4 linked regions of the Homo sapiens genome follow. The protein of the gene in region 1 interacts with the protein of each later gene in a biochemical or structural test. Each region holds a gene or a part of one and is shown on either strand. Other genes may lie near its edges. The genes, in order: CUL3, DCUN1D4, UBE2E3 and KLHL20.

The links.
Region 2: the proteins of CUL3 (region 1) and DCUN1D4 form a complex in vitro, tested with the Homo sapiens proteins (2 studies listed by BioGRID, with this or other methods).
Region 3: the proteins of CUL3 (region 1) and UBE2E3 form a complex in vitro, tested with the Homo sapiens proteins (one study listed by BioGRID).
Region 4: the proteins of CUL3 (region 1) and KLHL20 form a complex in vitro, tested with the Homo sapiens proteins (2 studies listed by BioGRID and IntAct).

The regions. Positions count from the first base shown.
Region 1 is NC_000002.12:224,498,351-224,505,381, reverse strand, and holds part of CUL3 (cullin-3), read left to right. Parts: intron 1-1,559; coding exon 1,560-1,730; intron 1,731-2,309; coding exon 2,310-2,417; intron 2,418-4,894; coding exon 4,895-5,019; intron 5,020-5,164; exon of another isoform or gene 5,165-6,202; intron 6,203-7,031. UniProt on the Homo sapiens protein: Core component of multiple cullin-RING-based BCR (BTB-CUL3-RBX1) E3 ubiquitin-protein ligase complexes which mediate the ubiquitination and subsequent proteasomal degradation of target proteins.
Region 2 is NC_000004.12:51,909,143-51,916,173, forward strand, and holds part of DCUN1D4 (DCN1-like protein 4), read left to right. Parts: intron 1-15; exon of another isoform or gene 16-310; intron 311-1,927; coding exon 1,928-2,032; intron 2,033-4,147; coding exon 4,148-4,250; intron 4,251-4,386; coding exon 4,387-4,442; 3' UTR 4,443-7,031. UniProt on the Homo sapiens protein: Contributes to the neddylation of all cullins by transferring NEDD8 from N-terminally acetylated NEDD8-conjugating E2s enzyme to different cullin C-terminal domain-RBX complexes which are necessary for the activation of cullin-RING E3 ubiquitin ligases (CRLs).
Region 3 is NC_000002.12:181,053,582-181,060,612, reverse strand, and holds part of UBE2E3 (ubiquitin-conjugating enzyme E2 E3), read right to left. Parts: intron 2,921-7,031; coding exon 2,788-2,920; intron 1-2,787. UniProt on the Homo sapiens protein: Accepts ubiquitin from the E1 complex and catalyzes its covalent attachment to other proteins. In vitro catalyzes 'Lys-11'- and 'Lys-48'-, as well as 'Lys-63'-linked polyubiquitination.
Region 4 is NC_000001.11:173,780,966-173,787,208, reverse strand, and holds the end of KLHL20 (kelch-like protein 20), read right to left. Parts: intron 5,086-6,243; coding exon 4,979-5,085; intron 2,047-4,978; coding exon 1,962-2,046; 3' UTR 517-1,961; downstream 1-516. UniProt on the Homo sapiens protein: Substrate-specific adapter of a BCR (BTB-CUL3-RBX1) E3 ubiquitin-protein ligase complex involved in interferon response and anterograde Golgi to endosome transport.

The sequences.
Region 1 (7,031 bases):
GCAGACCACCTGAGGTTGGGAGTTTGAGACCAGCCTGACCAACTTGGTGAAACCCCATCTCTACTAAAAATACAAAATTAGCTGGGCATGGTGGTGGATGCCTGTAATCCCAGCTACTCAGGAGGCTGAGGCAGGAGAATCACTTGAACCCAGGAGGCGGAGGTTGCAGTGAGCCAAGATGACGCCACTGCACTCCAGCTGGGGCAACAATAGCGAAACTCCGTCTCAAAAAAAAAAAAAAAACTGAACAACTACACAGCTGTAGTTGGTAAACAGTCATTTTTATGACTGAGAGTTAGGCATGCTGAAGATAAAGAACTAGAAAACTTTCTAGTAGAGAGTGTTGTTTGCTCTCATCTGGTTCTGAAGGTTATATGTCAAACAATAATTGGATGCCAAGAATATTAAGGCATAGATAGAGTAGATCTCATCTCAGAAAATGGTTGGTGTAGCTCAATTTCAAGCCTTTGTGATATATGATATCTCTGGAACCTGAGGAGCTCACGACAGCATAGAAAATCAACTGAAGCATAAAACATGCTCACATCTGAATTGGTCTCTTTTGACTTCATTTTGGAATTTGTGACACCAAAGGGAAAAGCAACATGTCGTCACAGGTTTTACAGGCAGTAGCTGCAATAAGGGAACAAAATCACTAAGGTTGCACAGAATAGAAAAGTCTATTAATTTATGCATTCATTTGGTCTTCCGTTTTTCAAATATATTAATACAACCTGCCACAGAATCCTTTTGCCCTTATTTAAAAGTAAGGGCAGCCAGGCACAGTGGCTCACGCTTGTAATCCCAGCACTTTGGGAGGCAAAGGCGGCGGATCACCTGAGGTTGGGAGTTCAAGACCAGCCTGACCAATATGGAGGAAACCCATCTCTACTAAAAATACAAAATTAGCCGGGTGTGGTGGTGCATGTCTAATCCCAGCTACTCGGGAGGCTGAGGCAGGAGAATTGCTTGAACCCGGGAAGCAGAGGTTGCGGTGAGCCGAGATGGCGCCATTGCGCTCCAGCCTGGGCAACGAGTGAAACTCCGTCTCAAAAGAAAAAAAAAATAGAAATAAAAAAATAAAGTAAGGGCAATGGCCTTTTTACTGTTTGGATTATAACAAATTATTGCCTTTTGTTTGCACAGTTGAGGCTTTCAGTGAGCTTAAATGAAAAATTCCGTCTTTTGGCTGTGTAAGTTTTTGCCTGCATATGCAAAGGCTTCATAAAATAATCTCTGTGACTAAAATTTCATTTCATCTGTTCTCAATCATCCCTTAACCCAGCGCTATATTACCTTATGCCTCCAATTCAGTGGTAGCCCTCTACGGAATAGAATTCCACTCCAACCCCTCATTCATGATGCACTAAATGAGAATGTAAGAATGATGCTACTGTGTGAAGTAGGAGACACTTTCTCAAACCGTATCCCTTTTTTTGATGTATGTCAACCAGATATCTATGTTTTCAAACAATAGTGTTTTTAAGCTGTAAATGAACCGTAGTACTGCTTTTGTAGAACTAAAATTGTATAATTGTTACATCATCTTAATTTTGCAGCTAACAGAACAAGAAGTAGAAACAATATTGGATAAAGCAATGGTCCTTTTTAGGTTTATGCAAGAAAAAGATGTATTTGAACGTTATTATAAACAACACTTGGCAAGGAGACTTCTCACAAATAAAAGTGTTTCTGATGACTCTGAAAAAAACATGATATCTAAGTTAAAGGTAAGGTGTGTTTTAGATGAAATAGAGTGCACCTAACTGAGGTTTATTATGATTGTGTACTGACAACGTGATTGGAAATTAATTTGGTAGATTATTAAGTGTTTATTTCTAGAAATAAAGGTAGATTGTTTTGGAGAAGAACACAGACTACACTAACATTTGTTCAAGTTCAGGGACATTCAGAGTTTGCTGGAATTTCTGTTGGTGTGTCAGGATACATTCATGGAGGCCTGGAAGGGAGGATTAGTAAAAGGGAAACAATAAAGAGGCTATGCTGTGTAGTTCTTTTTCACAAAGTGTGGTCCATAGAATACTTGCACGTGAATCACCTGAGATGCTAGTTAAAAACAGTTCTGGGCCCTGCCTTTCATGGGGGTATATTGGAATCTCTGAAAGAATCTGGGAATTTGCATTTTAAAATCCTAAAGTTTGATAACCACAGGCACAGAGCAACTGTTGGAAAAATTTACAGGAAGATTATCAGGGATAGCAATAACATGAAATAATTTATTTCTTTCTGTACTTTCTCATAGAAACATCTACCATTTATTTGTGTATATTTGTGTTTTTCCTCCACAGACTGAATGTGGATGTCAGTTCACGTCAAAACTGGAAGGAATGTTTAGGGATATGAGCATCTCAAACACAACGATGGATGAATTCAGGCAACATCTACAGGCAACTGGTGTAAGATTCTGCGTTAATTTCTACTTAGATATTCATGTAAAGTCTTTTGTAATGGGTATATTTTCATCCACTTAGCAGATGACAGTTGTTTCTTTAAATGTCATTAGTGACAACATGTGTTTTATCTGTGAGTACTTAATTTTCCTTCACATTGCCTCTTATTCTGTGTTTATGTTAAAACTTTTTATTCTTTTAAAATTTAGTTGTTTCTTCCCACTTGAAGGAATACACTGACAATTTAATAAAGAGAATTATTCTGTTGTTAATAAAGATAATACAAATCTATTATAAATTGTGGAAAGAGTACTGGGCTTAACACAAGTTTACTGAGTTTCAGTACTCTTCTTTTCACTTTACCCCAAGATTGTGTCATCTTGGGATAGTCACCTGACCTTCCTATACCTCACTACTATTATTCTCCTCTGTAAGTTTAGCTTAAATGGGACTTACATCCTAAGGGTGCGTAGCAGGTGAAGTGAGACTATAAAAACACAGAAATTAATGTATTATAAATGTGTTTGGTATAACTCCCCAAAGGTGGTGAGCTGGAACTTCTTTAGCTTTGGAGTCTGATGGGAGTTTTATGAGCATTTAATGAAATTCAGAATTTAGTTTCATTTTTTACTCTGATTTTCAACTTAACCTTAAGTTTAGAGAATTGTACAGTTTTTAAATTTTTAAAATCACCGTGTACCACTCTATGGTTAAAATGTGTCACAACCATTTAACAGATTTGTGAGTCTTTTCCTTTGGTATCTAAATATGAGATCATCACTTCTACTGGCCTTATAGTCTCGCAAACCAGATACGTGAAAATACGTAATTCTGTAGAATAACCATTCATTTCTATGAAAACATTCTGACTCTAATGTAAATAGTTGTATGATTTGCTTTATAAATATCAGTGTTTACAGTGGAGAAGAGCTGAGAGGAGGAAAGATGCAAGTCCATGACAGAAATTTCGGGTGGACAGGAAATAGTGGTGTAATTATCCTGGATTTTTATTTTTAGATTGTTTAGGAATTTATAGTTAAATCTAATATATTGATATATTTTCTTGTATTTTTTTGTTTGCTCTAGTAAGTTTTTAAATTTTTTTCTTCCACTAATCTTACACATTGAAAGCTATAGGGAAGATTGGGCTAGATCCCATGCATATTGATATGGGATGGATGGACTGTCCACTTTGTGACCCTCCCTTCCCCTAACCAACTTGCGAATGTATAAACAGTTCTCCACCTCCCCCAGTACACCATCTAAGAGTCTCCTCTATGATCCTCTCTTCTGTGCATCATCCAAGTTTATTTTCAGTTTCCTTAAAGTTAAGTAATCATTTAGTGGATACTTGTGAAGAAATCGGAGTGTAGAATGCTTCTTGATATTCATAAACTGATTCCTCCCCTTAAAAATTTACATTACTAAATCATTGAGGTAAGATAAAAATGGAATGATGGTTTATAACACATCCTGAATATCAATAATAGAAATAATATTTAATCTTTAAGAGTTTTTGTTGTGCCTTATTGTTGTTTACTTAAAAATTTAATTTGTTTAAAGGAAGAAAATAATTGTGACAGTTGATACTAGCATAGAAGTAGTTATTCATTGTACAGATATTTGTAGAGCACCTGCTCTGTAGCACTGGATCTATAGTGTTATAGCACTGGATCTGTATGCAGAGGTTGTTAGAATGTGAGCTACATGCTAAAACGTAAAAGTTTTAATTAACTGTAGTTGAAATAGGTGCTGGAATATTAGAAATATGTATTAAGATAGTAAAAATATTTTAAAACTGAGACGAAGGATATTATGCTAGAATTTTCTCTAAAATGATATAATTGACCCTCCTTGACCTTTTATTTAAAAAGGCCCAAACTTTTCAGTTCTCAGTGATAACAGTAAGACTTGATTTATGTGCCAAAAACTATTCTTTGGTCAGTGTTTTTAAATTAACATAATAAGCAATAATTAAGCTATTTGCCATGTAGTTAAAATTTGGGAAACACTGGGTGGGTCTAACCTTTAAGGAAATCTGTTTTTTTGCCGGGTGCGATGTCTCACGCCTATAGTCCCAGCACTTTGGGAGGCTGAGACGGGCAGATCATCTGAGGTCAGGAGTTCGAGACCAGCCTGACCAACATGGAGAAACCCCGTCTCTACTAAAAATACAAAATCAGCCAGGCGTGGTGGGCATGCCTGTAATCCCAGCTACTCGGGAAGCTGAGGCAGGAGAATCGTTTGAACCTGGGAGGCGGAGGTTGCAGTGAGCCGAGATCGTGCCATTGCATTCCGGCCTGGGCAACGAGCGAAACTCTGTCTCAAAAAAAAAAAAAAAAAGAAAAGAAAATCTGCTTTTTTTTAAATTAGATATTAGACATGGAGCTAACTGCTTTGGTAAATCTAACACAATGTCTAAACAGAACAGAAAGCAAATCCTAGTTAATTTTGAGGGGAATATCTCTTTCTGTTTTACATAGGTATCTTTAGGTGGTGTTGATCTTACAGTCCGGGTGCTCACGACAGGATATTGGCCCACTCAGTCAGCCACACCAAAGTGCAACATCCCACCAGCACCAAGACATGCTTTTGAGATATTCAGAAGGTAAATCAAAATCAGACTTTGTATCACTGTGTACAAGTAAGTGTTCAAAATTAAAAATGAATTTGAACATTAGTATCCGTAATTGAGGATGAATGTATTCCATTTATTACCTCGTGATCAAAAGGAGCATTTATCCTGGCATACAGCAATTTCCCCCTCTATAGGATCTTGATGAGTAAAGTAAAGCAGGCATAATTTATCTCTAGAAAGATTGTTTATATGCTGGCATTTGAAATGCCTTTTATTTAGAGCAGCAGTAAAAATGGAAAAAGAGAAAGTAAATGATGATGGAAAACTAGACCCAGAGAATTCCTTGGACTTTTCTGAACACTTCAGCTAACTCCAATTGTTGGAAATACGTGGATACCTTATTCCCACTAGTACTCAGAGTCTCTGAGATGGCAGTTTTGATGAGGAAGAGGAGCAAGATGAAAAAAAAACAAGAGTGATATGCAAGAAAAAAACAGAGAAAGATCCAAGCAAATATTTTTTTTGGGCTGCTGAAAATAATTGGCTTATCCAGTGTGGAGACTGCTTTGTGAAAAGACCACTCGTGTGAACACTAGGGATGAAGATGAGTGTATCACCCCCTTCATCGAGCAGCCTAAGGTGGACACTTAGACATTGTCTGTGAGCTGATTGCACAAGGGGCAGAAGTTTTTGCAGTGACCGTAGATAGCTGGACACCCCTGCAGGGTGCTTATAAGTGGAATAATACCAGAGTGGCTTCTTTATTTCTTCAGCATGGTGTAGATTAGTTATCAGTGACCAAACAAAAGGTCTCTTGACCCACTTGCATCTTGCTGCTGGGATCAGAGACAGCAGAGCTACTCTAGAACATCTACTGGTGAACTGTTAACCTCAAACCAGATCTGAAAAAACAACTGGGAAGAAACTGTATTTGATATTGCCAGGAGGACAAGTATCTGTCACGACCTCTTTGAAATTGTGGAAGGCACTGTACAAATTCTTCACCTTAGTCTTAATGATTCTAGTAATTGTCTTAAGTGTCCAAGTACCAGTGCCTTCTTTGTGTGAGATGTAAAATATTCCCATAGTAAAAGGTTGACATCAAACATCTTACTACAAAAAATTCATTGGTACTTATTAAGATGTTCTTCCAGGTGAATTGCCTGACCTTGATGTCAAAATGTATTTGAAAGTTGTTTGAATATATCTTGAATGATTTCTGTGGAGTTTGTGATTTGTATCAGAAATAATTTCGACTTGCCTACACTTAAAAACTTGACGTGGGTTGTACAGAAACTAAAGATATTTTTGGTGCTGATCCAGGAGATACGTATTTTTAAATAGCCCATATCCTGGATCTTTGTTGAGTATTCAGCATATTGACATGTATCTTTGTAAGGTGAAGTAACTAAGAATTTAACTTAAAAAGCCTCGAACATTCTGGTGCTATTCCTGCTGTCTTCTCTACATTACCATAGCCAGTTGCTTTCATTTTGAACCAGAAGCACTAGCATATTATTGACTTGTAGCTTCATAAATTAAAAAAATAAAAACTAGATTTTGTCTTTTAGAACATAGGCCATTTTCCAGGAAAGCAGCTAGGTTTTAATCCATTAATCTTGTATACTGTCTCCACCACCACAATTCACATAATCCTGTAGACAGTCCTGCTTCACCCTGGTCAACTGCATGATCCTTATTGTAATAGTGAATCAGTATAACACTTTAGACATGCACACAGATAACACGCTGTTGCAAGAGTTCATGATATGTCTGCTGTCCAACTAGTTTTATTTGCCTGATCCTACTGGTTTAGGCACTGCCTATAGTCTCGAGTTCACAGAAATGTTGGGTTTTTTCCCTCCCCAAAGTCCTCATTTTTTATAAACTGTAGAAAGGCAAAATGACAAGGGAAAAGGAATTCTAAGAGTGAAGGGATGATTGTTATATTGGGGCAAGAACCACAGAGTGGCTCAGGCTTTGGAAAAAATATGGTGTGGATAGTGACAAAAAACATAAATATAAAAATTCAAGAAAAACTA
Region 2 (7,031 bases), on another chromosome or scaffold:
TTTTTGTCACCTTAGTGTATGTCCATTGTGACGGGGACATAGGTATTGATGATGGTGGAAGAAGGCACAATATATATCACAGCAAGACTAGAGATTTGGGGTTTAGTGAATGATTACAAACTCTGCAAAGGGAAAACTCTTCCAGAGCGCCAGTGTTGTCAGCCCAGTGCTGCATAAGCTGTTGTTCAACAAATGGACTTTGGCCGAGTCCTGTGGTGCCGCGTGTGTTTCTCAACAGTTTACTCGTTTATCTTGTGGATTGCTTCATAGTATGGTGTGCTGTTGCCGTCTGCCACACCTGTGTTACAGGGTAAGAGGAAGTTTTCCATTTGCTTGCACAGTGTCATCACAGAAGTGTAAGCCCTTGAAACACAACAAACCAATGCAGTTTGTCTGGCAAAAGGCAGGCAGTCTCTAGATCACCTCTTCTCCTGTCCTCTTCTCCATTGGGAGTGCGTACTGCAGCCCTGAGCAGGACAATACATATGGCCAAGGGACAGGCAGAGAACCCTGTGGAAAGGAGGTCCCACCTGTTTGCATAGAACTGTGGAACTGGGATACACCTGCCCTCATCAGACTTAAGTTATGTGACCTCTGAAAGAAGGGTGATGTGGAGCCATCTGACCTGGTCTATTCATGGACAGTCGTTACACTTCACAACTGAGACCAAAAGGCCAGATCTATTGCACATCTTCCTTAGGCAACAAGTTTCCTTGTCTTCATCTACCTTGATTGTTGTTGTTAAGTGAGGCCCTTACATTTGCTGTATTAAGTCCCAATTCAGGGTCATGGCTAGAAATGGTTTGTATACTAAAGAGTACCTCACTGTTAAGCGTCCTTGCAGTGATGATTTATTTTATCAGGAGGTATATATGGCTGCATATGTGGCTTAGGGTGGTGGTCACAGCATCATCCCTTAATTTGAACATTTAGATTCCACTGCACTGGGCTAGCCAGGCACTTTCTCCCTTTGTAAAAAACTACTTTTACAAATTTCCACTGTAGTTAAGATAACACATGGAGGCTAGCTTTGGATATGTAAGGTATGCTTATGGTCCCAGGCCCTCTATTCCTTTCCATGGAAACTGACCGCTTGTAGTTCTGGAATGGAAGCATATAAGAAAGACGGAAATGAGAAATTAGGATCCTTAATTGCAAATGTAAGTGGAATGAGCTTACCCTGCCCTTATTTAGGTTTATGTTCTTATCTTTTTTTCTGGTGTCCTTATGAAATGTTGTCTTTCACTTGGTTACTAGTTAGGAGTATTTTACTAGGAAATTTACGTCTAAGAAATCTATCTATCTATCTGTCTATTGAAGGACTGTATTGATAGACTTCCTGCCTTCCACCAGAGTGGGTAGATGAATCTATCCTCTGATTTAGAGAGACACTTCAGAGCCCCAGCATTTGGTATGAGCTGAAGTCAATTCCAGCATGTTTAGGTTCAAGAAAAATATTTATCAATGAAATCAAATTGATTTCGTTTTTATTAAGGAAACCTGATTCCTAATCATAGGCATCAAAACCTTTAAGCTCCGTTGAGTTATAGGCTTTATGGTCAACAATTAGGATTTTGATAATTATCATAAATATCAAACAAGCAAGTGATTGAGTTACAAGTTTTTATTAATCCCATGAAAAGCCTGTAGAAACTGCTACGACATAACTAATTGATTTTGCATTAGGGTGATCATTCAGTTGACATAAATCTTTCTCACAGTAAATTTATATAATATCGTAATGCCCAAGCCTTCCATTGTGTTTGACTACCTCCCCTCCCTAACCTTAGTCTGGATGCAGGGTCTTTAAGGTGTATGATAAATGAGCTGTTTACTAATTTCCTGTTGAAGTGAATACACATTTGCAATTATTGGAATTTATTATTTGGGGGCATCTGGCTCATCCTTGTTTTTGTTTGTTAAACAGGAAAAGGACCAGCGCAGCCTAGACATAAACACTGCCAAGTGCATGTTGGGACTGTTATTAGGAAAAATCTGGCCCCTTTTTCCAGTTTTTCACCAATTCTTAGAGGTACCAAATTGTTGTTTTATGAAATGTATGTTTGCTTGCTTGGAACTACCAAATAACTTTATTCACCCGTTGTATGTAATTTTTTGTTTGTTGTACTTTTCTGCCTATGTAGGAATTACGGTGACATAATTGCTGTCAGTCAGCAGCTACCTATCTTCTTGGAGTGCATCTGTGTATGCGTTTAATGTTGTGTTGCTTCATTCCACATTAAAAATGCATCCGAAACAGCCACAGCTCTGTCCTTTTCTCTCTTTTCTCATCCCCATTTTAAAGCTTCACTTTTGTTTAGATTTTCTGTTCTTTGTAACAATAGAAAAAGAAGATTTACTTTCTTTTGACTTTAGATGAACTTCCACTTTTATTAAGCAGAGGTTTAAAAGACAGTCATCTGCCTTCTTACCAAAATTAGTTTGTAGTATGTTCTTATCTACTCTTGTCACCAAGTAACTTGAGGACCTTAGATCAATCTAAGTATTAGGCAGACTGACAATATCTCCTTCAGTTTAAATTGTCTTCAGATCAGTATCAGAACAATCCAGCACTTTATTCCATCATTGTTTGTGTGCTTTTAAGTATTGATGATCAGAAATTCTGAGCTACTGGTTTTGTTGAAGTGTCATTCTGTGGGACCTGGAAGTATATGGGATACAAGTTTGAGTTACTTGGGTTGTCATATATGGCATCCTCCTTTCCCTCCTGCCCCAAGCCCTTCTAAAAAGTGTCCTTTGCTTGCAAGGATGAGGGTGTTGGGTCTTTGAGAAAATGCTGGGCCGTAAGATGACTCTGGCTTCACTCTTGAATAATCTTTCTCACAACTTACTTTATGTAATGGTCCAGAATATTTTTAATATCTGATAGGATTCTTTGAGAACTGTTATTAAAAATTTCTTTTAACATTACTAAGTGGGACTCCTCAAAAATTTAAAAACTAGTTTTACGTAAGTATCTGTTTACCCAAAATAGTCCATGTTGACATATGGTCTGTTCTAATTTCTCTGACAATCCCTTGAGATGAGTTAGCATTATTTGGAAAAATAAATAGAAATAGTTCCCTGTTCTCAGAGAGTTTAGCTGGATTTACACCTGTGTGTAAAGAGTCTTAAGCTGGAAGACCTGGCCTGGAGGAAATCTGACTTTGTGTAATTCCAGGTGCATCATCAACTGTTTCAGGACTGGTTTTTGCTTTTACCTGCTTAGAAAGTTAAACTTGTAGTCTGTGCTTTGTTCTCTCTCTTACATTAGTTTGCATTTTTCTTTAAAAAAGACAGTATTCCTCTCATTTCAGCTTTTCTTGTGTTTGCATCCTCAAAACCATTGACTCAACTCTCTTTGCTTTTTATGTACTTGTATTGTTTTACTATGTTTCTGATTTTAGTGGGGAAGATTTAAAAATCATTGGTTCTGGATTTTATTTATGAATCTTCATACAGGGATACTGTATTTTTAAATAGACACATGGCAAATTTCTCGTCTAAGAGGAATAGAAAAACGATTTCACAGCTATTCTAGCTTCTTTTATGATCAGATTCGAGTTTTGAATTATTAGAACAGTAATTTTTTTCTGTGACAAGAACACCTAATTTTGAGACCACTTGCAGCACTTACCGGATCTCGTCAAGTAACCTGCTGCTGCATGTGCTTTAAGCCGAAGGCTTGGCCATGGGCAGTGCTGGTTATGTCAGGGGTTATATTAATGGGAGCTACTCTTTATTTAGCACTTACTTTGTGCCAAACACTGAATGAAGTGCTTCACATAAATTAGTAAATGATCTCTTTTAATTCTTATAATATCTTTATGAAGTAGATATTATCTGCATTTTATATAAAATGGCTTTTGCAGTTTAGAATTTTCACTTCTGGGGATATATAATCATGTTATTTTGATGTGCTTTCCATTTTGTATTGAGACCCTGTCATATTTTTGTAATGACAATTGTCATCTTAAATTCTACTCTTGCTCTCCCTCACCATCCTCCTAGATTGGTGCTTAACAAACCTCAAACAGAAAGAGTTAACCTTACATGAACTTAATTAAGTTGATTCATAAAGCAATTGAAACCGTCCCATTTGTTCATTTTAAGTGTCAGTAATTCATATTACTTTTCCCTCCATCAGCAATCAAAATACAAAGTTATTAATAAAGACCAGTGGTGCAATGTCCTAGAGTTTAGCAGAACAATTAATCTTGACCTCAGCAACTATGATGAAGATGGAGCATGTAAGTACTGCCGCTACCATTCTGCCATTCGTGTACATTTCTATATCATCCTCATTGGGAAAAGCCTCAGCTACATTACTATTATTATTATTGTTATTATTATTATTATTACTACTGTTTCTCTCTTTCTCTCCAGGGCCAGTTTTGTTGGACGAGTTTGTGGAGTGGTATAAAGACAAACAGATGTCCTAGGACTTTATGCATAGCAGCGAGAGAGTCACTGTTACCACAGTTTTGTCACCCATTAGCCATAAATTGCTGTTTGTATCAAAGCGCATGCTGCTTCTCTTGCACTGTTTCCCTTTCGCAGGGACATGTTGGTGTTTGCTATTGAATTGGCCAGCTCTGCTTGCTGTGTGGCATTGTTCTCTTGGAAGGCTGCTTTGCAGTTTGTATTTACACTACAGATTGGTGAATTTGCCAACGTCCTCACTGTGATTATGTGTATATTGCTGTTTAAATTTTGTATATGTGTATAAAAGGAAAAAGGTTCACCTAGAGATTATTTCTGAAAAATGTATTGTAAAAATAATTTTGTGGCATTTCTAGTCCCTTTTTTTGAATGAACCAATTATACTTTATTTGGTCTCCTATGTAGCATTTCAGAAAACAAGAGAAAACTGTTACCATGAACAAACATTGCCAGAATTAACCTTACTGTTTAAGAGGCCAACTTCTGGAAGGAGGTAGGAGTCATAACTTTTTAGAGGCATATGCCAAATATCATTTGGTATACTTAACAATATTAGTGTTTTAAAATGATGAGTTATAATTATTTGAACATATAGATATGTAACATGCCACAAATCATTTCTACCATGCAAGGTGTATAAGTTGTTTATTTTTTAGTGTTAAAACTATAATAGCTTGAATATAGGTACCAATGAACAAATTCAAATTGCACCTCTTTTCTTAAAAGAATGGGATTTAAACTCTTATAAACATTCTTTAACTTTTTTGTTTGTTTGTTCTCTTTTTTTCCTTTTGCATTCTTCTAGCCAGTGATTGATCTGCTAATGCTTTCTTTGCCACTCTAAGTAAAATTTATTTCACCTCCTCAATGAAAACCTCATGGTTTTGCTGGCTGTTTATAACTGCATCGCACTTCTAGTTGTGGCTTGAATTTTCAGTTAAGCTTTCATGGTATGTAATTTTCCAGCCTTTTGAGAAAACAAGCATACTATAAGTGAGAGCTGTTTTGTTTTCCTTGTTTGTTTGTTTCATGCTAGGCTTTTCCTGGCAGCATGTCCATTGCAGGCAGTGGACAAGAAACCACCAGCATTGAGCTAACCCAGTACATGCTAGGACCTGTCCTAGAGGGGCCACTTTTCATTACCTGAGTTATTTGTACAGAAGGGCAATAGCCATTATTTTTGTGGATGAGGAAACAAGAATAAACAGAATGGTATTTTTAGGTTTGTATTTTATGTCTTTTTTTTTTTTTTTTTTTGCCATTCTTGAGGAAATATAGAGATGACATGTTTTCACCCCAACTATCTGGTGCTATTGAATGACTAATTCAGTCCCTAAAGTTCTGTGAAAACACAAAAGTCTAATGATTTGAGTGAGTAAAAGGTAATGGTGCATTTGAACAAGTAAATGCTGTCGTGGTCAGCAAGATCCGTGATTTGAACATGTGATGACTGGAAAAAGGTTTGGGTTATTTGGAACTCTGGCTAAAACTTCTTTCGGGTGACATGTGATCGTTTAAATGGCATTAAGTGAATAAAGCACACAGACAGTGCTACTCTTGACCACTATTTTACCATTTCTTTGCAAACAGTGTTCACATTTTCATATTTTTTCCCTAACTAAACCACCAAAGAAAGAAATTTTGTATGTATATACAGTGTGTGTGTATACAAAATCATGATATAGTAGAATGCAACTACTTTCTTTTTCTACCAAACGAAAGGTTTTATTTGCTGTGAAATAAACCAGAAGTTTAAAAAACCCTGTAGTGATTAAGCATACTTAACCACTCCTTATTTGTAGATTCACTTTCAACCTTAAAAATTAATACCAGTTTGCATAAACCAATATCTGAAAAGAACAGGAAATGTTAATGGCAAGCAACAGCTATTAATACTGATGTGATGGATGCATTTGTTTTGCAGTGGTGACTGGCCTAGGCAGGTTTGGATCTGTGAAGAATTGATTCATTTTCAAAATTATTCCATAAAGTTAAAAAGTTACACTTTAAAGGCAACAGGTCATACAGTTCTTTAAATCTGATCAACTGTAGCTTTATTTAAAGCAAATATAAATCATAGATGAAGTTATTTTAAACACTATGTTAGAATATAGAGATTTTTAAAAAATGCTGATAAGCACAGTTAATTCTAAAATGAGAGGATTGTTACAGGAGGGAGATGTTACAGTTAATCCACAATCAACATTTTGATGGTAGGGAAAAAACTGCGTAAAAACTATTGCATTATGTATGATAAGAAAGTAAGTATTCCAAAGGGATAATCTTGCATATTAAGAAAACTCCAAATAATCTTTAAACTGCCTTGAAAAATAAACCTCTTTGACTGCTGAGCGGCAGAGTGCTTACCCTTGATTGTCTTGATTTTATATATTTATTTCTAAGGGGAGAAAAAGGGGTCAGACAGAGTAATATGATACATTTTCTTAAAAACTTCTCTAAGTTGCACAAAACTGAACAATCATCAAGCACTTATTTACTGGCTAATGTTGAATAAATTAGGGTGCCTTCATCTGGGTTTTCTTTAGTACCTAAGTCTACAACCCTTTCTCTTTTTCTATTGTGTTTCG
Region 3 (7,031 bases), about 43 Mb from region 1:
TAAAACACTAAAAAAAAATGAAGGGTAATATATCATAGATGATACTAAATTATTTGACTGGAGCTAAACTTAGATTAGGTTTAATAACAAAATTAAATGCTTTTGACTCAGTTGAAAAAAATTTTTTGTTTTTACCCTGTATAGAAAGAACTAAAGTGAGGAACTGATCAGTTATACTTAAATAACTGATACAGTAATTCCATCTATGTGTGTGGGTACGTCTGTTTGCATACACATCCACAGCATATACAACTGTGTGTGTACACATACATACAGAAAGACAGAAAGTGAGGAAGAAAAGAAATGTTTTGGTGCCGAAGGTAAGAGGAACTGATGAAGATTTTTTTTTAAAACATAAAAGTTACATCAGTTTCTTACTAGAAAAGATCAGTATCAATTCAGCTAATTTCTTACCAAACGTTAGAAAATACTGGAGGATTTAGAAGACGGTTGGTAAAATCATTCACACTACCTGCCTTTCTGTTTCTTAGCCTTTTATTTCTACAGCTGGTTCACTGTCTTGTTAGGCTAAAATATTAAAATAAAATAAACAAGGTTTTTAGCTACTGGATAAAGGAAACTAATATATCCCTGAAATGTGTGAGAAAAGAAGATAAATCATAAGAACAAACACTGCCAAGTCTCAAAACAATCACAAACACTAATTGGATAGCTAATTCATAATTGGAGTTGCCGAGAAAAAAAAAAATTTCTGATCATTTGAAAACTAGCAGTGTACTGTGAGCGCAAAAGTTGAATCTGGGAGGAAAACATTAAATGCTCTCAAAAGTGTCTTCCTGAAAAGAATGCATGACAGGGAGGGGGTAGGGGACCAACACACTAGTTTAGTGGGGGAGGAGGAGAGTATGCCCCTCTAGAACTGCTCTGACCAATACAGCATATACTAGTTACATGTGCATATACAGCTCTTAAATTGTGGCAAGGTGAATTGAGACGAACTAGAAGTGTAAAATAAATACCAGATTTCAAAGAGTTAGTACCAAAAAGAAAATGTGTAAGATTTCATTAACAATACTCTTACACGGATTACATGTTGAAATGACAATATTTTTAATATGTTGGGTTAACTAATATAGTATTAAAATTGTTTTATGTTTTATGTGGCTATTAGAAAATTTAAAATTATACATGTAGATTTTACTATATTTCCATTAATGCTGCTCTAGAATATAGAAATAATTTATGTTCAGATCACTGACGTTACTGCTCAATACATATGTGATTTACAAATATATTTTCAGCTATAACTAGTGAACAGAATAGCATTCATGAGCAGATTTCTATTAAATATTTATTATCCTTCAAGAAGCTCAACTTTTCCAAACTTCAAAAAGATTTAGCATTGCAGAGAAATAATTGTTCCAAATACCAAGATTATACCAGAAATCTTATTTTTCATTTGTCCAACTATAGATCTTAATGGTTAATACTGTATATCTCAGCAACAGAGTGAACACTAAAGAATTAGATGATATATTGCAATTTCAGCAAAAAACCAACATGCTAAATTTATAATCATTATATTCATCAAAATTACGGCAAATCATATACAGTACTATATAGTGTGAAATTCTTATATTAGCCAATTTCTGTTTTTCATTAAAAGGTGTCCAGGAAAACTTAAGAGTCTTTTTCTTCAATTAATCTTCCCCATATGCAAAAATAATTTCAAGATCTTACATGCTGATGGGACCACACGGTAAAGCACTTTAAACACTAACAGCTGTAATTGAGAGTAAATGGTGTCTGCGGTTTGGGGTAAATACCACTAGATGGCACTCGTTACCTTGTTAGACAATAAGTTACTGAGAAATAACCCTCTTTTATTCACAAAATAAATCCGTTTATGTGCACATATACATATACACACAGGCTACATAAATTTTAAATGGTATAGACTGCAACATAAATTTTTAAAAGTACAGAGAACAAAAGTCACCATGTTGGAAAAGAAAAACATTTCACCATAGTTAAGGGCTATGGACTTGAAAATACACTTTCCCCTGCTATGTCAGACATCTCTGTAACAACAGCATAATAATGCTCATGCTTAATTCCAGTGGTTTTTACCTGCTGACTTGACCATTGTAGAAACAGAAGTTAGCGGAGGGAGCCATTCAAGTAATTGTTATATTTAAGCTTTGCAAAGTTGATGGTCATTAGAAGGCACAACTCACCCCGTTCTCTGTTATCCATCTAATTCATACTTCAAATGAACTCAGAGCCAACAAAACTCAGGCATTCTGCTTCCACTACTACATCATACCCACAGAAGGTACAAAATGAGTTTACTAAATATTATTAGTTTCCCTCTTCTTGGCTATGAAGTTTTTGCTTATCTATAAAGGTATTCAGCACAAAATTCACATTATTAAACCCTTATTTCTGGAAGCTGTCAAACAGTTTTACTTTTTATCCTAATACCTTCATTAATACCTTAATAGTTAATTAAGGTATTATTAATTAAGGTATTAATGAAGGTTCATAGGATCTTCTCCCTCATAAGCATAAAATTTATCTGCTTTATTGATGTGCAAGGTATAGTTTTATTTACAATTAAGAATTAAACTCTTTCTGTTTATTACAAATTATTTGTGAAAGGAGTCAATTACTGTTTTAAAATTCTTGATTATGCGAAAATTTCCATATCAATCCATGAAAAGCAATGAAATCAAAATAACTGCATCAATACACATTTAAGTTCTAGAATAACCGATTTTAGAGGAGAAGGATTAAATACTAAAGAATGCACTTCAAGCTTCTTACCTTTGGTGGCTTAAATGGATAATCTGATGAAAATGTGATATCCAGAAAAAACACACCACCTTCATATACAGAACCCGGTGGACCAAGTATAGTTGATCTCCATTCATAAATGTTATCTCCTTTAGGCCCAGCACTATTTAAAAGAAATTAAAAATCAGTATGTACATATATTAGCAATGAATGTTAATATCCTAAAACCAGGGAAGTGTTAAAGGTAAATTAGCAATCTAGAGCAATAAGAAGTAAAATAAGTATAAAAGAAATAAGCCCCAATGTGTTTGCATGTGCATGTGTGTATGAACTTACTTGGAAATATTACAAACTTACAGAGGAAATGCAAGAAAAGTACAAAGAAAATTGGTATAACTTTACCCAGTCTCCATTAGCATTCTGCTCTGCCCCATTTGCTCCTCTCTCTCCCGAAACACACACCCCTCTAAACCTGCAAGCATGCATAGAGACATACTTTTTTCTGAGTCACCTGAAAGTTGCACACGGCCTTTTCCCCATAAACATGTCAGTGTGCATTTCCTAAAAACAATCTCCTATAAATTACAATACAGTTACAATTTCAGTAAATACATTAATACAATTCTTTAAAGTACAATTTGTATTATAATGTTGTCAACTGATTCGGTAATACCCTTTTAAAAAATTAATTTTTCTCCGATGCAGGACCCAGTCTTGGAACCACGTTATTTCCTGTGTCTTTATTCTCCTTTAATATGGGTCCTTTCCGCCTTTCTTTAACTTTTATAACATTAACGTTTTTTGCAGAATCTAGTCTTCTTTTTTAAAAAATGCTCATCATTTTGAGCTTGCCATGTTTCCTCATGATTTGATTCATGTAACGCATTTCTGGCTGAAATAGTAGGTGTCTGGCTGAAATAGTATGTGTCCTTCTCATGGTATCACATTTGGAGGCACACAGCACCTACCTGTACCTCATTGGTGATGTTAAGTTTCATCATCCAGACAAACTGCTATCCAATTTTCCTACTGCTTAGTTACTATCTTTTCCCTGCAACCAATAAGCAATATTTGGACAGACACTTCAAGACCAGGCAAATATCCTGCTTCTTATCAAAATTTCTTCCCAAGATTTAGCATCCATTTGTGATTGCTATGGTTTGATCTGTCCCTGCTAAAACTCAAGTTGAAATCTGACCCCCAAACGCGGCAATGTTGGGAAGTGTCTGGGTCAGAGGGGTAGATCCCTCATGAATAAATTAATGCCCTCCCTCAGGGGTGAGTCCTCACTCTAGCAAGAATGAATTAGTTCCCAAGAGAACTCATTGTTAAAAAGAGTGGCTTTCCTTGGTTTCTCTCTCTTGCTTCCTCTTGCTTTGTGATCTCTTTGCACTTGATGCCTGCCTTTCCACTGTGAGTTGAAGCAGCCTGAGGCCCTCAACAGATGCAGATGCCCATCAGGTGAACCAAATAAACCTCTTTTCCTTATAACCTACTCAGTCTCAGGTATTCTGTTACAGCAATAAAATCATGATTTTCCAATTCTAGAACTTTCTCTACACTTAACAGTTACCCCTTGAGCCTCTTCTCCTGCCTGTACGTATGTACAGAAGTATTACTGGTATGGTCTCATTTTTTCCCAATGCTTTATAAGTCATTACTGACTTTAATTATTTTGATACCCAAATTATTGCAGATTTGGCTGATGGGGAACCCTTTCAAAATGACTCCTATATCCTTGCAACATGTTAGCATCTTTTTTTTTTTTTTTTTTAAGCATTTCCTTCCTTTGGCATAAGGAATCCCATCCTTGGAATCAAACATTTTTCCAAAGAGCCAGGGTTCCTTTCAGTGCGAATGTTGTAAGAAAAACCAAGATCTGAGTCCTAGGTGCTACTAAGTCTTAGTTACATTTTGGTGCACTGCGCTTAACACACCATTACTTTATAAAATACAAACAAGAGAGATAGTTCAAATAAAATCTAAACTCATAATTACTTGTTGGTAAGACGACTCATACGCCTTAAACTCTCCTCAAATATATTTTACTGCCAGTTGATAGAAGAGCTTGGATTCCCACACCAAATTCTTAGTTCTTAAATGTGCTCTCTTCCCACTTATCATGCTATTTGCCATCGGACAAAGTGTACATTTAACTATAGGACAAAGTGTACATTTAACTATTGCAGGATAGTAAATAACTTTTCCTATTGTCTTGGAGTAGACTAAGCAGAGAAGCTATGGTAGTATGATTACTTTGCTGTACCCAAAGACACCTAGTTTAGGACAAGTGAAGGCTAAAATCCAGTCCTAAAATCCAGGTAGTGTTGGCTACCTGTCTGGATTAGGGGCCTCTTTTCATTCTCATAAATGTACCATCTGTTAGTCAAAACATACGGCAAGATGGGAAGGGGTCAGGAAGGGACATGAGCAGTTGCAGGGCTGAGTCCACTGTAATTTAAACAAATCATATTAGAGGCTAGCAACTGACCGACACTCTCTGTCTCTTCCACTGTCTTGAATCATCATCCATTTTTCCTTCTCTGGTGAGTGATGCCAATAAGAATCCAACAATGCCCTTTCTCCCAACTTTATTATTATTTTTTAAAATCTCTATTTCTCTCTCCCTTCGAGTTTCCATCTCAATCATCTTTCCTTGACAGCAAAACTCCTTGGAAATCTTATCTACATCTGCTATCTTCAGTTTCTCTCCTCTGTTGTTACTTGAACTCATTCCCAACAGGCATTTCCTCCCATTACTCCACTGAAACAGCTCTTATCCAAAGTCACCAATGACCTCATCACTACACCCAATGATCATTTCTCAATCTTCATATTATTTGACTGGTCCAGCAACATTTGACACAGCCAATCACATCCTCCTTGATACACTTTCTCTTTCATTCCTAGAATAACATACTTTGTTAGCTTTCCTACATTTCCTGGCCCCTCGTTCTCACTCTCTATTCCTATTCCTTATCACCCTAAGCTTTAAATATCACCAGTCCTCCAGAGCTAAGACCTTACACTCTTCTCTTTTCTACCTACATATACTGTTTTGGTTATCTTATGCAGTTTTACGGCTCCCAATACCACCAATATGCTCTTAACTTCCAAATCTGTAACTGCAGCCTAGATTTTTTTTGCTCTGCAAGACAATGTCAAGAGAACAAGGCAGGCAACAGTCTTGGAGAAAATATTTGCAAAAGATGTACCTGATAAAGAACTGTTATCAAAAATATACGATGAACCATTAAAACTAAAGAAAATGAACAACCTGATTATAAAATGGGTGAAATACCTGAACAGATACCTCACACCAAAGATAAACAGATGGCAAGTAAGCGTATGAAAAACTGTTCAAACTCATGTCATTAGGGAATTTCAAGTTAAAACAAGAAAAGCATGCCACTACACACCTATTAGAATGGCCCAAATCCAAAACACCAACAACAAATGCTGAAGAAAATGTGGAGTAACAGGAACTCTCATCCATTGCTAGTGGAGAATACAAAATGGTACAGGAAATGCAAAATATCTAGATTCATTTTTATGCATCTGGATGTCCACTTTGGAAGACAGTTTGGCAATCTTGTTACAAACATAAACATATCTTACCATAAGATCCAGTAATCACACTCCTGGGTATTTACTCAAATGAACTGAAAACTTATGTCCACACAAAATTCTGCATGCAGATGTGAATAGCAGCTTGATTCATAACTGCCAAATCTTGAAGGTGATCAAGATGTTACTTCAGTAGGTGAATGGATATATAAACTGTGGTACCTCCAGACAACGAAATATTATTCGGTGCTAAAAAGAAATGAGCTATCAAGCCATGAAAAGATATGGATGAAACTTAAATGCATATTAGTAAGTGGGAGAACCCAATATGAAAAGGCTACATACTGTATGACTCCATCTATATGACATTCTGGAGGCAAAACTACAGAAACAGTAAAAATATCAGTGGTTGCCAGGGGTTAGTGGGGTGGAAGGGATGAAGAGGCACAGCACGGAGGATCTGTAAGGGAGTGAACTTTTCTGTATGGTATGAATGGCGGATATGTCACTATATATGTGTAAAAATCCATAAAATGTACAACATCAAGAGTGAACCCATATGAAAACTAGGGACTTTGCATGATAATGATGTGTTAATGTAGGTTTATCGATTGGAATGTAACAACTATACCACTGTAGTGTGGGACAATAATAGCAGGGGTGGTTGTGTGTCTGTGCAGGGGCAGAGATACAAGGGGTTTTCACTC
Region 4 (6,243 bases), on another chromosome or scaffold:
TTGTTAATGATGTACTACAGTGAGGATCTCATAAAAGTTTTTATACTTTTTACATGTTAATACCAGACTTAATTAAAATACTTAAGGTCTTTTATTATATTTAGTTTCAGGTAAACCTATAGTGGCAGTGTGGCATAGAAAGAGGAATGGACTGGGAATTGAGGAAGCTGATTTCTAATGTTGGTTCTATCATTAATTGACTATTTATTCTTAGGCAGACTTTGTGGTTTTCAGACTTGGATCAGTGTAATAAGTGGGTTTGGACTAGATGATTGTTAAAGAGTCCTTCCAGCTCAAAATTGTATGAGTCTAAGTCCTACCTAGAAAATAAGTTTATAGGTTAGGTAATATAACATATAAAAATATATAATGAAAATTCCTATTAATTCTAGCTGGCAATCCTTTTATTCAAGTTGAAAGCACTTGTAACTTTACATACAGATAAAATAAATTATATAGAAACAGAAATTCCAAATTAAATAACAAAAGTACAAGGATAAAAAGCATTAGCTAAAATTTTTTTAATGGTAAATACTACCTTTATTTAAAAAAGTTATACATGCTAGAAAAAAGCATAAATGATATATGTAAACAATTGTTTACTCAATACTTTTTTTCCTTGAAAAAGGTGCAAATGATCTTTAAATGTAAACACAAAGTTGCCAAACATTTTTGTAGTTGGGGAAAGGGAGAAGGAGGTTATTCCTTTTAAATGCAGTTAGTCTTATTCAAAGATTTTTCTTGCAAAATATATTGAAAAAAATTTGTCTATGAATACAATGAGGAAAAAAAACTTTAACCATTGAAATTATTTTTTCCTTAAAAATTTTTAACTTTTTACCAGAAAGTGCAATTTGAGAGAAGTAGTAACAATGACCTTATAGAATGAAGATAATGATACATTGTTTGTATAAAAGAACCAAGATATTAATAAAATGCCTCAATTGATTTTACACTCTTTAATGTGTGCTATTACATTAACTGAATAATTCATTCCCTTGGAGGCTGTTATTAAAGGTAAGCCTCAGCTTAACCAGGCCTGAGCATCAAGAATAAATTGCATAACAGAATTCACTGCTGGGAGAAGACATTTCTCCCTGCTGGTCCTTGGTAGCAATAAGGAAACAGGAAGGACAGTTGCTTTAGTCAGTAACATTTTTGAGCAAAAACTGTTGCAGAGCTGCATGTGATTCTCTTGGATTCTCAAGACAGCATATGAGACTTATATATTGTTTTTATAAGAGGCACTGAGCAGAGCTCTAGATCTAGCAGAAACTCTATGAGAATATTATGAAAAAAAGACTAAATAAACAAGTTCATATAGAAAGAAACAAGACATAAAATTACACTGATGAAAACTGTAGTGTCTGAGTCCTGGTTTTTATTGATTTAGTATCCCTTCTGAATTGTACTATTTAAAATGAGATGTTGCCTTTTCTTGTTTTTTTGTTTTTTTTTTTTAAGATTTTCAAGTCTTCTGGTGGTTAGTGCGAGAATAATGGGTAGCTAATACATTTTGCATACCTACCTTTATTCCTGGTAATCCTTGTTAGTGGAATCATGTGGATGGAGTGTCTAGAAATAATAGCCAAATCATATATAGCCCTTCTGCCCTTATTAAATAGTATTTTCAAACCTAAATGAATACCTTACAAACAAAGTAAGTTTTGCTGCTTGGAATTTTTTCTTCTTTTCTTTTTTTGTGGGAGGAAGGATAAGTTCAAAACGAAAACAACAAAAAACCATGATAAATTAAAACCAAAAATAAATATTCTTCTGCACAGAGTTGAAAATTATTGTGCATCTTGCAGGTGAAGTACTTTCATTGGATTGTATTTCCATTTGTTGAGGCACCGGCAAATAATAAAATTTGTTCTAATGTTTTCTCAAGCTGTACAAAGCTCCAAGGTCAAAGCTCCCCAGAATACAGAGGAATATATACAAGACTGTCTTCTCTGTGTTCACCAAATATGGGATTCACAATGTGTCATTTTAATAACTCCTACGCCACCCCCTAGCCGACGGTAATTCATCCCGCCATATAACCTGCAAAGAAAGAAACATAATCATATTTTCTAACTGGAAAATATGTTACAACTAAGATGTTATTAACTACGACTAAGATGTTATTAACACGTTTCTATGTTTTATATTACAACTAATATTTTCAGCTTCACACTAATATTGTCTTCATTCTAAAGATTAGAAGCTGCAATTGAGCACTGTTGAGTAGCAGGACTGTTTCAGAGATTGACTGACATGCTCTCACTCATAGGAGGCTGTGTGAAGAATAAGAGAGCATCATATTCACGTTTGGCATCAGAACTTTACAACTGTATACCTCACTGACTTCTAACGGTTACACAGAATTATATATTCTACATTTTCAAAATTTTGCCCCTGGCTATATTATTGTCCCACCTATGTTTTCCCTTTGCCTAAAATTCTTCAATTATTTATTTTTATCCCTTTGTCTTATATGTACTCTGTAAGCCTCTTCAAGTCCTTTATAGAACAAAACCAGATTTGAGTAAAGTCAGCATCTAGTTTGTGACAAGATCATCTTCAAAATTAAGGACTTTCCATGGAGAAGAATACTAGACCCTTATCAGCTATGAGGTAGAGTTGGTTTTTAAGTCTTGGATATGTAACTGCAAATATTTAGTTATTAATCTTTCAACAGATGATCCTCAATAATTTCATGACTATTACTTTGTCATCTATTACTAATTCTATTTAGTGACAGTTACTAAGAAACAAGTCCTCAGATAAGATTATAGTGATTAAGTGACAGTAAATTTGGCTGTCTTCAGAAATTATGCTTAATCAAAATTCCTAGTAAAAATAGAAAGCTGTATATGGAAGAAAATATCCTGCCAGTGAGAGGCCCAAAGCTGCCATTACCTATCCTTTACCGTATTTAGGTTTTGCTAAAATGCTACCTTTCCAATGAGGCCTTCCCTGAACACCTTTAAAAACAGATTCCCCTCCCTGTACTCCCTAGCCCCCTCCCCTGCTTTGATATTTGCCACAGCACTTCCATCTACTGGTATGGTACTGTTTGTCTCCCTCAATACAATTGGTTAGCTCCAGCAGGGCAAGGAACTTTTTTGTTGTTTTGTTTTGTTTTGAGACGGAGTCTTGCTCTTCCACTCAGGCTAGAGTGCAGTGGTGTGATCTCGGCTCACTGCAACCTCCACCTTCTGGGTTCAAGAGATTCTCATGCCTCAGCCTCCCTAGTAGCTGGGATTACAGGCGTGCGCTTGGCAGGAATTTTTGTTGTTGTTGTTCAGTTTTGTATCCCCAGGGCTCGGAGCACTTAGTAAATCTTTTTTTTTTTTTGAGACGGAGTCTTGCTCTGTCACCCAGGCTGCAGTGCAATGGCCCAATCTCTGCTCACTGCAACCTCTGACCCCAGGTTCAAGTGATTCTCCTGCCTCAGCCTCCCAAGTAGCTGGGATTACAGGTGCCCACCCCAATGCCTGGCTAGTTTTTGTATTTTTAGTAGAGACGAGGTTTCATCATGTTGGCCAGGCTGGTCTCGAACTCCTGACCTCAGGTGATCCGCCCACCTTGGTCTCCCAAAGTGCTGAGATTACAGGCATGAGCCACCGTGCCTGGCCATCAATAAATCTTTACTTAATGAACAGGACTGTAAAAATGTGATGTAGGAGCAAAACGTACACGCTGTTATTAGCCTGACTTTAGTTTTGTGACCACTGAGTCATATGGAGCTGTGAGACATATGTAGGATCCAAAGCATGTCACTTAAATCTCTGTGAGAGTTGTGGCTTTCCTAGAGATAGACTATTAGAATACAGTAAGAAAGGACTACAAGACTGCCTCTTTTAGAATAGTAACAATAAAACAGAGCTCAGCTTATCCTTCATGGTCATAAGAAAAATTTCCCAGAATGTCTGCTGCCTCAGCTCACATGTCCAGCCTGATATTTCTGGTTGATGTGCAACCTTAACCACTGAGATGGTAACCCTAAACTTGCTTAGGCAAGTAAGCCCATTTTATTGAGAAGGAAACCCCAAATTGCTTGGAAGGCAAAACTGTTTTCTTAGAAGACTAGTATTTAGAATTAAGTACAGATATGCCATACATCAAACCCATAGTATTGTTATTTTTAAAGTTTGAGAATAAACTATGTGTTTTGCATTTTAAGTTCCTGTAGTGTTTAAGAGAATTTGGCTTTTTAGGGCATCTATAAGATTACTCTTGTGATTCAAGTATAAAATATGATTGAGTAAAGATTTAGACTTAATTATTTTAAGTTTAAAGGTTTAAGAGAATTTTGCTAAGTTTGTAAAGGTTCTTGAATATTTAAAATAAATGCAAAAGTCACCTAATTTATGTGAAATTATAAAAACTACTTAACTACTTAAGAAAGCTTTATTAGACAATTGAGGATTTAAAAGCAAAGTAAAATTAAACCTAGAAATGAAGTTTAAGTTAAGCTCTCTTAAATAAGATGTAGCCTCCTCCCTAAAAGTTAAAATGGCTTTAAAAATGAAATATTATTTTTCAAATATTAATTTTTCAAAAGTAATTGCAATTTGTTTCTCCTAGGCATAGGTTTCCCACAAGAACACCAAAAAATGGCATGGACAGATTTGGAGCCAAAGACCTAGGTTCTAATTCTAACTCTGTCACTAACTCACTTAGGCAGGTCATTTTATTTCTCGGTGCTTTTGTTTCCTCAGCTGAACATGATGGGACTAGGAAGATTTTTTTTCCCTATTTTACCCATCTCTAATTATAAAACTGGACAGTTACTGAAAAGGAGAATTTTGTAATATATCAGCCACTTTAGAGCAATCAAGTCAAAATGAGCCATAAATATGTGTAACTTCAGCCCTCTTCAAAGTACTCCAATGTACTGACCATCCCAGTTCTGATGGTCATAGGCTATTTCAAGCCCATGATTTCCAAATCAGTAGTGAGGTGATTTGCTACACAGCTTAAAAGTTACCTCCATGTATTGGCATCAGGATCAAAAACTTCTATGGTCTTCAAGTATGTTGTGCCATCAAAACCTCCTACTGCCATGAGCTGTCCATTGACCACTGCCAGGCCAACCTACAAAACCAAAATACAGTAAGCTGCTGAAGAAACTAGACAATCGTAAGGAAATTATAGACTGGTTTCTAGATAAATCTATTTACAAAAGATAATTCTTTATGGCCTTACATTCTGGTTTACTGAAACACAGGGAAAATGTAACAACAAAAGTCTATCAAATTATGGGAACTATAAAATTATATATTCAATTAGAATATTCACACAGAATCCAAAACATGTATTTCTTAAATTTTAGAAAAACTGTTCACTAGAAGTGAGCAAACAACCTCCAAACTGCTCTCACTTCCTCTGGTATTTGCCTGCTCTAATCTTTCTAATTGCTAGTAAAATTCTCTTTTAAAAATACAAATCTAGGCCAGGCATGGTACCTCATGCCTGTAATCCCAGCACTTTGGGAAGGCCCAGGTGGGAGCATCACTTGAAGCCTGGAGTTCAAGACCAGCTTGGGCAACACAGTGAGACCCCTATCTCTACAAAAATAAAGTAAAACAGAAAAATATAAATCTAATCATATTGTCACTTTCCTCTAAAAACTTTCTCACTTTGGGAGGCTGAGGTCGGTGGATCGCTTGAGCCCAGGAGTTCGAGACAGGCCTGGGCAACACAGTGAGACCCTGTCTTTACAAAAAATACAAAAATTAGCTGGGTGTGGTGGGGCATACCTGTAGTCCCGGCTACTTGGAAGGCTGAGGCAGGAGGACTGCTTGAGCCTGAAAGGTCGAGGTTGCAGTGAGCTGAGATTGTGTACACTGCACTCCAGCCTGGGCAGCAGAGTGGGACCCTCTCAAAAAAATCTCCTAAAACCAAAACAACTTTCTAAGCCTCCCTACTATTTAAGGGTAAGTTTTAAAGTCCTTATTATGTTACTCAGGCCCTCCAGAAATCTATCTTAGCCCACTATTTAAGCCTCACCTCTTATAGTTTCCCTTTACTCCTAACTAATGAATCCTATTGCTGCAGTAAAACTGGATTAACTGCTAGTCCCTGAAGATAACATACATTTTTCACACCTCCACACTTTTGCACATGTTCCCTGGCTGGTGTTTTCTTCTCCCCTCCCCTCCCCCACCTCCCTCCCTCCTCCCTCCTCTCTCTCTCTCCCTCTCCCTCTTTCCCTCTCTCTCTCTCACTCACAGGGTCTCGCTCTGTCACTCA